Linked DNA regions of Homo sapiens. The protein of the gene in region 1 purifies or fractionates together with the protein of each later gene. This does not show direct contact. Each region holds a gene or a part of one and is shown in the gene's direction. Other genes may lie near its edges. The genes, in order: NTAN1, MAP4K5 and PLAA.

The links.
Region 2: the proteins of NTAN1 (region 1) and MAP4K5 fractionate together in Homo sapiens (co-fractionation; one large-scale study listed by BioGRID). This does not show direct contact.
Region 3: the proteins of NTAN1 (region 1) and PLAA fractionate together in Homo sapiens (co-fractionation; one large-scale study listed by BioGRID). This does not show direct contact.

The regions. Positions count from the first base shown.
Region 1 is NC_000016.10:15,049,567-15,053,221, reverse strand, and holds part of NTAN1 (protein N-terminal asparagine amidohydrolase), read left to right. Parts: intron 1-3,655. UniProt on the Homo sapiens protein: N-terminal asparagine deamidase that mediates deamidation of N-terminal asparagine residues to aspartate. Required for the ubiquitin-dependent turnover of intracellular proteins that initiate with Met-Asn.
Region 2 is NC_000014.9:50,421,261-50,424,689, reverse strand, and holds part of MAP4K5 (mitogen-activated protein kinase kinase kinase kinase 5), read left to right. Parts: intron 1-1,513; coding exon 1,514-1,569; intron 1,570-3,429. UniProt on the Homo sapiens protein: May play a role in the response to environmental stress. Appears to act upstream of the JUN N-terminal pathway.
Region 3 is NC_000009.12:26,923,138-26,926,792, reverse strand, and holds part of PLAA (phospholipase A-2-activating protein), read left to right. Parts: intron 1-232; coding exon 233-400; intron 401-832; coding exon 833-968; intron 969-3,445; coding exon 3,446-3,615; intron 3,616-3,655. UniProt on the Homo sapiens protein: Plays a role in protein ubiquitination, sorting and degradation through its association with VCP. Involved in ubiquitin-mediated membrane proteins trafficking to late endosomes in an ESCRT-dependent manner, and hence plays a role in synaptic vesicle recycling.

The DNA.
Region 1 (3,655 bases):
GATTGGAACCCTGGCAGCCTGCCCTTGACTCTGGAGCTGCGCTATTCAGTACAGTAGCCACGAGCCATCTGGTTACTTAGGATTTAACTTAAAAATCAATTAAAATTAGATAAAATTGAAACTCAGTTCCTCAGTTGCAGTAGCCACATTTCAAGTGCCGAGCAGACAGCATGGCTACTAATGAGACAGTGTGAATATAGACGGTGGCCATCCCAGCATGAAGTTCCTTTGGCCAGAGCTGTTTAGAGCCCTCCCTTAGTCACTCTTAACCAGTCACTGGGTACTCGGTAACCAGTCCTGCAACATCTTGGGTAATACGGTTCCACAGAGTCTACAAGATGCTCGCAGCGTAGCTTAGTTCCTGCTTTTATTATTTATTTATTTATTTTTTTTTTGAGAGACAGAGCCTTGCTCTGTCACCCAGGCTGGAGTGCAATGGCACGATCTTGGCTCACTACAACCTCTGCCTCCCAGGTTCAAGTGATTCTCCTGCCACAGCCTCCTGAGTATCAGACATCTGCCACCATGCCCGGCTAATTTTTGTATTTTTAGTAGAGATGGGGCTTCAACATGTTGGCCAGGCTGGTCTGAAACTCCTGACCTCAAGCGATCATCTCGCCTCGGCCTCCAAAGTGCTGGGATTACAGGCGTGAGCCAGTGTGTTGGGCCTCATAATTTCTTATATAGCATTGTGCTTTACAGTTCACAGATCACCTTCATGCCCCTCTCCTGTTTATAAAGGAAGAATTGATAAACAGGACAGCAGGGGTGAGGGTCACATGATCATCCCCCAGGTCACAGCTAGGTGATTGGCTAAGACACAGGTCAACAAGCCACAGCTCATGGGCCGGACCCTGCTTATGTATAGCCTATAGGCCAAGAATGGTCTTTATATTTCTCAAAGGTTGAGAAAAATCAAAATAATATTTTGTAACATGGGAAATGGTATTGAAATTAAAACTTCGGTGTCACCTATAAATAAAGTTTTATTGGAACACAGCCACATCTGTATTGTCTATGGCTGCTTTCACTTCATAATAACAGCAGAGTTGAGCAATTGTGACAGAGACTGCGGCCTTGTAGAACCCCAAATATTTACTGTCTGGCCTTTTTCAGAAAATCTGCTGGTCACTGGGTTAAGAGAATACTGCCATTGAATAGGAACTGGGAAATAGGGATGAGGGACTGAGGGAAAAGCTTTTTTTTTTTTAAGCAAATATTAGTGTCTAGAGCATATTAGAGGTTAAGAAAACTGGGACTACTTGCATATGAATTTATAAAGTAGGACTGTGTGGTTTTCCAAAGAAGGGAAGTTTGGCTAAACTCTTTTTACTACTTAAAAGAGCAAAAATTAGCCAAGTGTGGTGGCGTGCGCCTGTGGTTCCAGCTACTGCAAAGGAGGCTGAGGTGGGAGGATTGCTTGAGCCCAGGAGTTTGAGGTTGCAGTGAGCTATGATCTGGCCACAGCACTTCAGCCTGGGCAACAGAGTGAGGCCTTGTCTCTAAAAAAAAAAAAAAAAAAATTAAAAATAAAGTAGAGGCTGGGCACAGTGGCTCATGCCTATAATCCTAGCACAAGTGTGGTGGCGTGCGCCTGTGGTTCCAGCTACTGCAAAGGAGGCTGAAGCAGGAGGATCACCTGAGGCCAGGAGTTCGAGACCAGCCTGGGCAACACAGGGAGACCCCATCTCTACAAACAGTACAAAAACTAGCCAGGTGTGTCGGCTCATGCCTGTAGTTCCCAGCTCCTTGGGAGGCTGAGGTGGGAGGATTGCTTGAGGCCAGAGGCTGCAGTGAGCCACGATCTCGCCGCTGCACTCCAGCCTGGGAGACAGTAAGACCCTGTTTAAAAAAAGAAATTAAAAAATAGAGCAAAGCAGTCTACTGTTTTAGTTTTCTGGCATTCTCTCTTCTGATAATTTTTGCTTTTATTTCTTTGGGAAATCGTAGGAGCTGTGTTGAAGAGAGACATGATTTTTGGTCTTTGTGAAAGCAGTAATTAATTTCTCACAAATAGCTTTGCTTTTGAGTGGTGACCCAATTGTGAACATGAGTGTTAAAAATTCGCCTTTGCGCCCTCCCTTCTCTTCCCTTCCCTCAAAGAACAAAGCAGAAGGTAAGTATCTCAGGAGTAATCAAGAGGGAATTCTGAATTCTCCCCTGTTATTCTGAACTAAGATGAGGCAAGAAGTGGAATGAGAAAATGAGAGGCTGTCACCTGTACAGGTGTTCTGAGTTTTAGAGCAGTCACACCTGTTTCTCACTGACTTCTGGAGCAAGCAAGGCTGTCTTGCCCATCTAATTTTACACTGCAGTTCATTTAATCTTTAGTTTGTTTCTTAAATTAAGGGGCTTGTCTCATTTTCATTGATACCTTGCTTCCAGTTAATGGAAGTTTATAAACAGAAGAAAACACCATGTAAGTAATCAAGCTGATCATTATGTTTATTACATCTCTTCTTTTAGTTTAATCTTAATTTTTTTTTTTTTGAGGCAGGGTCTTGGTCTGTCACCCAGGCTGGAGTGCAGTGGTGCAATCATGGCTCGCTGCAGCCTCCACCTCCTGGCTGCAAGTGATCCTCCTACCTGAGCCTCCAGAGTAGCTGGGACTACAGGCACATGCCACCACACCCAGCTAATTTTTGTAATTTTTGTAGAGACAGGATCTTCCTTGTTGCCCAGGCTGGTTTTGAACTCTTAGGCTCAAGCAGTCCTCCCTCCTCAGCCTCCCAAAGTGCTGGAATTACAGTTGGGAGCCATCACACCCAGCTGCTCTTATGTTTTATTAAGTGAGCGCTAACCTAAATTAGCACCAGTCATGCGAAATGGCAAGAAGCTGATAGAAGACTAAGACTGCAAAACTGTCTTCCTGTGTAGGCAATACATACATACGTTGTCTAGACATTTGAGGAAGATTTTGTTCATCCAGGAGTTTGTTGCAAGTAAGAAGGAAATTATGATACATTGTAGTGTTGTATCAATTTAATATTTTGAAAAAGTTTTTGTTAAATAACCACTGAATTTTTAACCACTGAATTTTTTTTACAAGCTTACTAAATAAGTGTGTACAAACACTCAGATTATTGACACTTAGTATTAACATACCTTTCGTAAATTTGCCTTATCCATTTTGTTTTTGTATTCTAACAATAACTATGTGATAGAACATTGAGAGAAGAGAGGACAACAGCAACAGGAAATCACTCATGTTTGCTTTTTTGGCACAGCCATGGTTGTACTGGTGAAATTTCCTTCCAGTATTTTTCTCTATGGGTATAAGCATTTAATCATTGTTGTATTATGGCACATTTATAGCTCTTTAAAACATTTTTTATACTTTTGTATCTTGCTTTTCAATTAGCATTTCAAAACTCTTTTTCCCATAGTTTTCATTTCTCATGACTGTGCAGTTAGTGGCTGTGACTTGGTTCTGTGCCCAATTTACTTACCTTTTCCATTGCTGCTCCCAGCTTTTTGCCATTACAAATTACACAGGGGGCTGGGCATGGTGGCTCATGCTATAATCCCAGCACCTTGGGAGGCCAAGGCAGGTGGATCACTTGAGGCCAGGAGTTTGATACCAGTGTGGCCAACATGGCGAAACCCAGTTTCTACTAAAAATACGAAAAGCTGGGCATGGTGGCGCACACCTGTA
Region 2 (3,429 bases), on another chromosome or scaffold:
CGCCCAGGCTGGAGTGCAGCGGCACAATCTCAGCTCACTGCAACCTCCACCTCCTGGGTTCAAGCGATTCTCCTGCCTCGGCCTCCTGAGTAGCTGGGATTACAGGCATGCACCAACACACCCAGCTAATTTTTGTATTTTTAGTAGAGATGGGATTTCACCGTGTTGGCCAGGCTGGTCTCGAACTTCTGACCTCACGTGATCCACCTGCCTTGGCCTCCCAAAGTGCCGGGATTACAGATGTGAGCCCCACACCCGGCCTATTTTTAATTCGTCTTGATTACCTTTTTTTCAGTTTATGTTCTCATCCTTCAACTTGGGCCTAGCTAAAGTCTTGACCTCTTTCATAAAGTAATACTCAGTCATTCCAGGCACAATGATTAGAACATCTCTGAACTTAATACTCTGAAAAATCAGCTCCAACTAGTATAACACCTAATTTATTTTCTGATTCAAGCTTATTAATTCTATTTTCCCAGGTAGACTGCAAACTCCTTGATACCAGACTTTTTTTTTTTTTTAACTTACTTTATATCTACAATATCTTAGTGTGGGTTCCTCTAAAAGTAGACCCTAAGACAAGGACTCAAATACAGATAGTGTATTTGGGAATAGATTCCAGAAGACAAGTGATGGAATGAGGAATGGAGAATAAAGAGGGGCAAAAAGCCAATAAAGAACACATTAATAAGCTAGTTCCCACTAAGAGCAACTGGGGCTTAATCCAGTAGGGACCACTGAGGAATGGGGTAAAATACACCTCAGAATTGACTCATTTGTAGATGACGAGGCTTGAGCATTTATGCAGCAACTGCTATCCCATGTTGGTTAAGGCCTGCCCCCAGGTATACAAACTGCGGGCACTTTGGCATAGTACCTGCACATGGCTGAGCACCCTCTGCAGCTTTGTAGAAAACAGAGTATACAGGGTCTTGCTCTGTTGCCCAAGCTGGAATGCAGTGGTGCAATCATAGTTCACTGTATCCTTGAACTCCTGGGCTCAAGCGATCCTCCTACTTCAGCCTTCTGAGCAGCTAGGACTACAGGCATGCACCACTGTGCCCAGGTAAAATTTTTAAATACTTCTGTAGATACAGGGTCTCACTTTGTTGCCCAGGCTGGTCTCAACTCCTGACCTCAAGCCTTGGCCCCCAAAGGAGCTCTGCAGTCCAACAAACCTGTATTCAAGTCTTGAGTCTACCCATTCTATGAGATTGAACAACTTATTTAACCTCTTGGAGTCTTAGTTTCTTCTTCAATGATATGAGAATTATAATGCATATCACAAAGAGTTCTTCTAAGTAGAGTACCTGACCCATACTAGATGTTCCATAAATGTGGGTTCATTTCTAATAATATGCAATCAAAAAACTTACTAAAATTTCTTTTATTTGAGGAATTAAGTCTACCAAAAAATATTTATTGTGTTAATAATTGCTCTAAATTAATTTTAAATTGTTATTAAGGCAATATGGGGAGTAAGATGTTACTGATAGGTATTTTTCTTTCCTAGGTTACCCAGGAGATTTCAGATGAAACAAGAGTTTTCCGCTTATTAGGATCAGACAGGTAATAGTTTGGTTGTATTAATTTAATTACCAAAGGAGTTCAAAGATCATACTCTTAATTATACTGTCAGTCTGTAATTGTTTCAAACAAAACTCTTAGAAGCTCATTGACTTAGATACATTTCTCTGTGTCTTTACTGAGAGAATTAGTAATATTTTAATAAGTTAACTAAGCAACCTTTTGTCAGTGTGAGGATTGTTATTCTAGAGACAGTTATATTCAACTGAGACAAAATGTGTTGATATAGATGTTGATGTCCCTAGTACTATGAGAGCTATTTCGGGCCCGTTTGTCTTCATTTCTTCATGGTGTGCTGCCTTCCATTAACTATTAGGAATATGTACCTCTTGATGATATTTGCTTTTATATTAGAAAATGCCTGGTTCAGTTTCTAAAGTTAATCTAAGTTAAAAAGAATTATATGGTCTCTTTTTACCCCAAATAAAAGACAAGTTGCAAAACTGTCATCTTATGAAAAAAATGTAGTAGCTGTAGCTTTTGATTTCCAAAATCTACTGCCTACTTCTTTTTTTCTTTTTTTTTTTAAGACGGTCTCACTCTGTCGCTCAACTGTCTACTTCTATAGCTAATAAAATACCCATTCCTTCCTCTTTTCCCACCAAAAGTTGTTACTAAAGCAAAATTGGCTATAGTGGTATGCATTAGTCCTGAGACAAGGATTGGGAACCTCTGGTCTTCAGGTTCACATTGCTTAAGTTTTAGATACTTGAGGAAGGAGGGGGAAATGGAGTTATAACTCCATAAAAATTTTGAAGAGAGTTTTATAGGAGAACAGGAATTTTCAAAAAGTGATGACTACCTTAGTGAATAGAAAAGGTAAGCCCACAAAGCATGGCAACTTAGTAAGTCGTCCAACCAACAAAAAGAGAATTTGAGGATCATCTGGTAAATGACTCTAGAACTAAAATGAGAGGCTCTTTGCTTCTCCAGGAAGGGCTGAGAAAAGAACTGTGGGCCGGGCACAGTGGCTGATGCCTGTAATTCCAGCACTTTGGGAGGCCGAGGCAGGTGAATCAGCTGTCTCTACTAAAAATAGAAAAAGTAGCCAGGTATGGTGGCGTGTCCCTGTAATCCCAGCTACTCGGAAGGTTGAAGCAGGAGAATTGCTTGAACCCAGGAGGCGGAGGTTGCAGTGAGCCAAGATCGCACCACTGCACTTCAGCCTGGGCGACAGAGCAAGACTCTGTCTAAAAAAAAAAAAAAAAGAATTGTGGATCATCCATTGATCCTGGTGTAGATAATCCTTTAATGAAACCAAGTGTGAGAGAATTCAGCTTGGTAGAGGGTTGGCATCAGAGGCCGTTTCTCTGGGTTGCTTGTTTCCTTCTACCTACTCTGCTCAGAGCTTTGTGCATCACTTTTCCCTTCCCTGTTCGTATTCTCTGTCCACTCTATCACTATTTGCTCTGAAAAACTACTTCCTTCAGACTGTTGCCTTGCTCTGCTTGTCTCTTACATGGGCATCTCCTTGTTTTTAAGATACATATCTAAACAGAGTTTTTGTTTTATCTTTACAAGTGGTTAAAAATTTATTTTGTTGCCGGGCGCGGTGACTCATGCCTGTAATCCCAGAACTTCAGGAGGCCGACGCAGGTGGATCACCTGAGGCCAGGAGTTCGAAACCAGCCTGACCAACATGCAGAAACCCTGTCCCTGCTAAAAATACAAAAAAAATAAGCTGGGCTTGATGGTGCATGCCTTTAATCCCAGCTACTCGGGAGGCTGAGGCAGGAGAATCACTTGAACCCAGGTTGCGGAGGTTGCAGTGTGCCGAGATCACGCCATTGCACTCCAGCCTGGGCGACAAGAGCAAAACTCCATCTAAAAAAATAAAAATAA
Region 3 (3,655 bases), on another chromosome or scaffold:
TGGAGAAGGTAGGATGAATGTAAAATAACTTCTGAAGACTGGTGATAAAAAAATATTGCTAAACCTTAAATACAAATTTTGGTTATCAGGCTTTCAACAAAAAAAAAGATTTCTCTAACTTGAAAATTAATTTTTACTACTCACTGATATGTTTTATAATGTTAGTAAAATGTATAGAGCCATCAGCCAAATTATCAGTTTTATTGATTTGCATTATTGTTTTTTAATGCAGGGCATGAAGACTGTGTAAGAGGTTTGGCAATTTTGAGTGAAACAGAATTTCTTTCCTGTGCAAATGATGCTAGTATTAGAAGGTGGCAAATCACTGGCGAGTGTCTTGAAGTATATTATGGACATACAAATTATATTTATAGCATATCCGTTTTTCCAAATTGTAGAGGTAAGATTATTTTATGCTATTTATTTAATGTTTTGTATTGAGCATTATTCCATCCCATTTGTGAGATGGAGGGAGGAGAGCTGATTACTTAATTTACTATCTATGACTTGAATAATTTAGTAAATTTATTTCATTAAGTATCTTTCTCCTGTTTACAAAGAAGAAAATTGTATGGCCATCTTTATATTAATTCAGATTTATGTTGTGCTGTAAAAAGTTCTTGGGTATCTGAAGAAACACTTTGTAAGATGTGACATGAATAAAAAATGTGATTTTGAAGTTGTATATGTTGTAAGTGACAAACATATGAAATTTAAAACTGTAATTTTGAAAGTCTCTGGGTTTCAAAAAGTCAGTGTATCTAGAAAGATGGTATGTATAAATGTACTTAATTTTATTCAAACTAATACTTCCTATATTCATTAATTTTAGACTTTGTGACAACAGCAGAGGACAGATCTCTGAGAATCTGGAAACATGGGGAATGTGCTCAAACTATCCGACTTCCAGCTCAGTCTATATGGTGCTGCTGTGTGCTCGACAATGGTGACATTGTGGTTGGTGCGAGGTATTTATATTCTAGTCAATCATTAAATGTTATATGTCTAGGCCTTCAGTAGGAACTAGAGTGTACAGAGATAAGCCATAAGGAATTTCACGTGACTTGAGGAGACTATATGGACACTTCAATTACTAAACAAAACAGTAGTAGATATTATAGCTTTCATACTAAGGGATGCATGATATACCAGTATTGTACTGCAATTGTGCAGTCAATGATGCATGATATACCAGTATTGTACTGCAATTGTGCAGTCAAGATATTGACTACAAAAGAAGTTAGAGAAGGTAGAGATTGGTGTGGGAAAACTTTCTGTAGAAGAAGAAATTTGAACTGGATTTTGAAAGATTATGAGTGAGAAAAGATACGCAAATTTTTGTCAAAGCTAAGAGTATAAGTTTCCTTCATGAGAATGAATGCAGCATGCATAGGAAGTGAAGGAAAATGGTGGAGTACTAATGCTGAGATAATAGGTACAATGGGGCTTAACTGTGGAGAACCTTTAGTGCTTTCATGCCAGGCATTTTTTAGATTCATTGCCTGGGGTTGAAGGGTTGTAGTTCTTGAGCAAGAAATAGGATTGAAGCAGAACTTATGAATTACTAAATATGTAGATTGGATTTAACTGCTGGTGACAATGGACAGGAAAGTAAATTAGAAAGCAAGTACAGAAGGAGTGTGAAGTTATAAGACATTGGCCCCACAATGCTAATGGGTAGGAAATAAGTAAATGAGATAATCCAGAAGGAAAACAATCAGAAAAAGTATGAAAGAAAAGGATAAAGCTTCAAACTGTTAGTGATTGGAAATCTTCATTAATAAAAATGGAGAAGTGGGAGAATTGGTTGGGTACAGAAGGTGATGACCGTGGCCTTAGACTTCCTGAGGTCTGCAGTGGTGGTGAGCCACACTCATGCCAGTGGATCATGGTCATTTGAACTGGAGCTTAGTATAAGAACTGAGGCTAAGATAAAGATTTCGCAAAGCTTCCAAAAGCAAAGCATAGAACACCATTCTCTGAGGGAAGAAATACAGGGGAGGAACAGAAGACTAAGAACTAAGTTTTATGATATACCATTAGTAGAGAAAAAGAAGTTAGTAGGTTAAACAGAACAAAGGAATTCAAATGTTGAAATTTCTGGGAGACAGAAAAGGAGAGATTTTGGAGGGAGATTGTCATCAGTGTCAAAAGTGTTTGAGGAGTCAAAGAATGGAAAGTTTGAAAAGCATTTGGATTTGGTTTGAAAGATGTTATTAGTGACTTTTGGCATCAATCACATTTTGAATAGAAAATGATAGAAAAAAAGGCAAATAAGAGGAAATAAAGGGTTGGAGGAGATGGACGAAGGATCATAGACTACTCTATAATGCTACTCTAGCATTGAAAGCAATAAGAAGGCCAGCTGCTGTGGCTCACACTTGTAATCCCAGCACTTTGGTAGGTCCAGGTGGGAGGATCGCTTGAGCTCAGGAGTTCGAGACTATCCTGGGTGAGCTACCGAGACCCTGTCTCCATACAAAAAAAATATTTAATTAGCTGGGCATGGTGGCATGCATTTGTAGTCCCAGCTGCTCAGGAGACTGAGGTGGGAGGATTGCTTGGGCCCGGGAATTTGAGGTTGCAGTGAGCTGTGATTGCCGCCCCTGCACTCCAGCCTAGGTGACAGAGTTGGACCCTGTCTCAAAGAAAAAGAGAAGAAAAAGAAGGTGACAGCTATAAGGGATAGAGGGTCTAATAAAGTGGGTGTTTTATTTTTTGGCTGGGACAGAGGCTGATTTATAGGCTTAGTTTTTTTCCCTCCTAAGCATATGAAGAAAAACCAATAGAACGAGTGATGTACATGTTTGTGGACGAATAAGTTAGAAACAGGTTTCCTGTAGAATGGGCCAGGATTAATACAGTTGGAAGTGTCTAATTTGCTTCTCCTATCTCAGAATTTCGAATTAAGAAATCATGGAGATAAAGTAATTTTTCTGAGAAAAGAGGTTAAGGACGGCCATCTAATCCAAACATTAGGCCATTTTTTTTCCTTGATTGAAGTTACATTGCTAGTTACTGGCATAGTAAAGGATGACCATATTTGTCTACTGAACATCTGCTAATTTTAAGCCCTACATTGGGTCTTTGAGCCCTTTATAAACTAAACTAGCCCACTACCCTTCTCTATATGGTAATAACTAAAAAATATTGACTTTAAAAGTACATACTATAGCTCTAGATTCTTATGATGGTAAATATTTAACTTGGAAATTGTATAAAATACATGTTTCTCTGTTCTTTGTCAATAACTTCTCTATTAAATAGTTGACATAATAGAGTAGCATGTGCTGAAGTCAGCACAGTGCTGTAATCAGCAATTAATAACATGCTAATATTTCTCATATTCACAAACACAGATTATTTTTACTATGGATCATTCAGGTGTGATAATGTTAATGTATTATGGCAATGACTTCTAAAATCAGTTTATTTTTCCTTACAGTGATGGCATTATTAGAGTGTTTACAGAATCAGAAGATCGAACAGCAAGTGCTGAAGAAATCAAGGCTTTTGAAAAAGAACTGTCTCACGCAACCATTGATTCTAAAACTGGCGATTTAGGGGACATCAATGCTGAGCAGCTTCCTGGGAGGGAACATCTTAATGAACCTGGTAAGTATTTTATTGTACCTAGTAGAAAAAATTCACCATA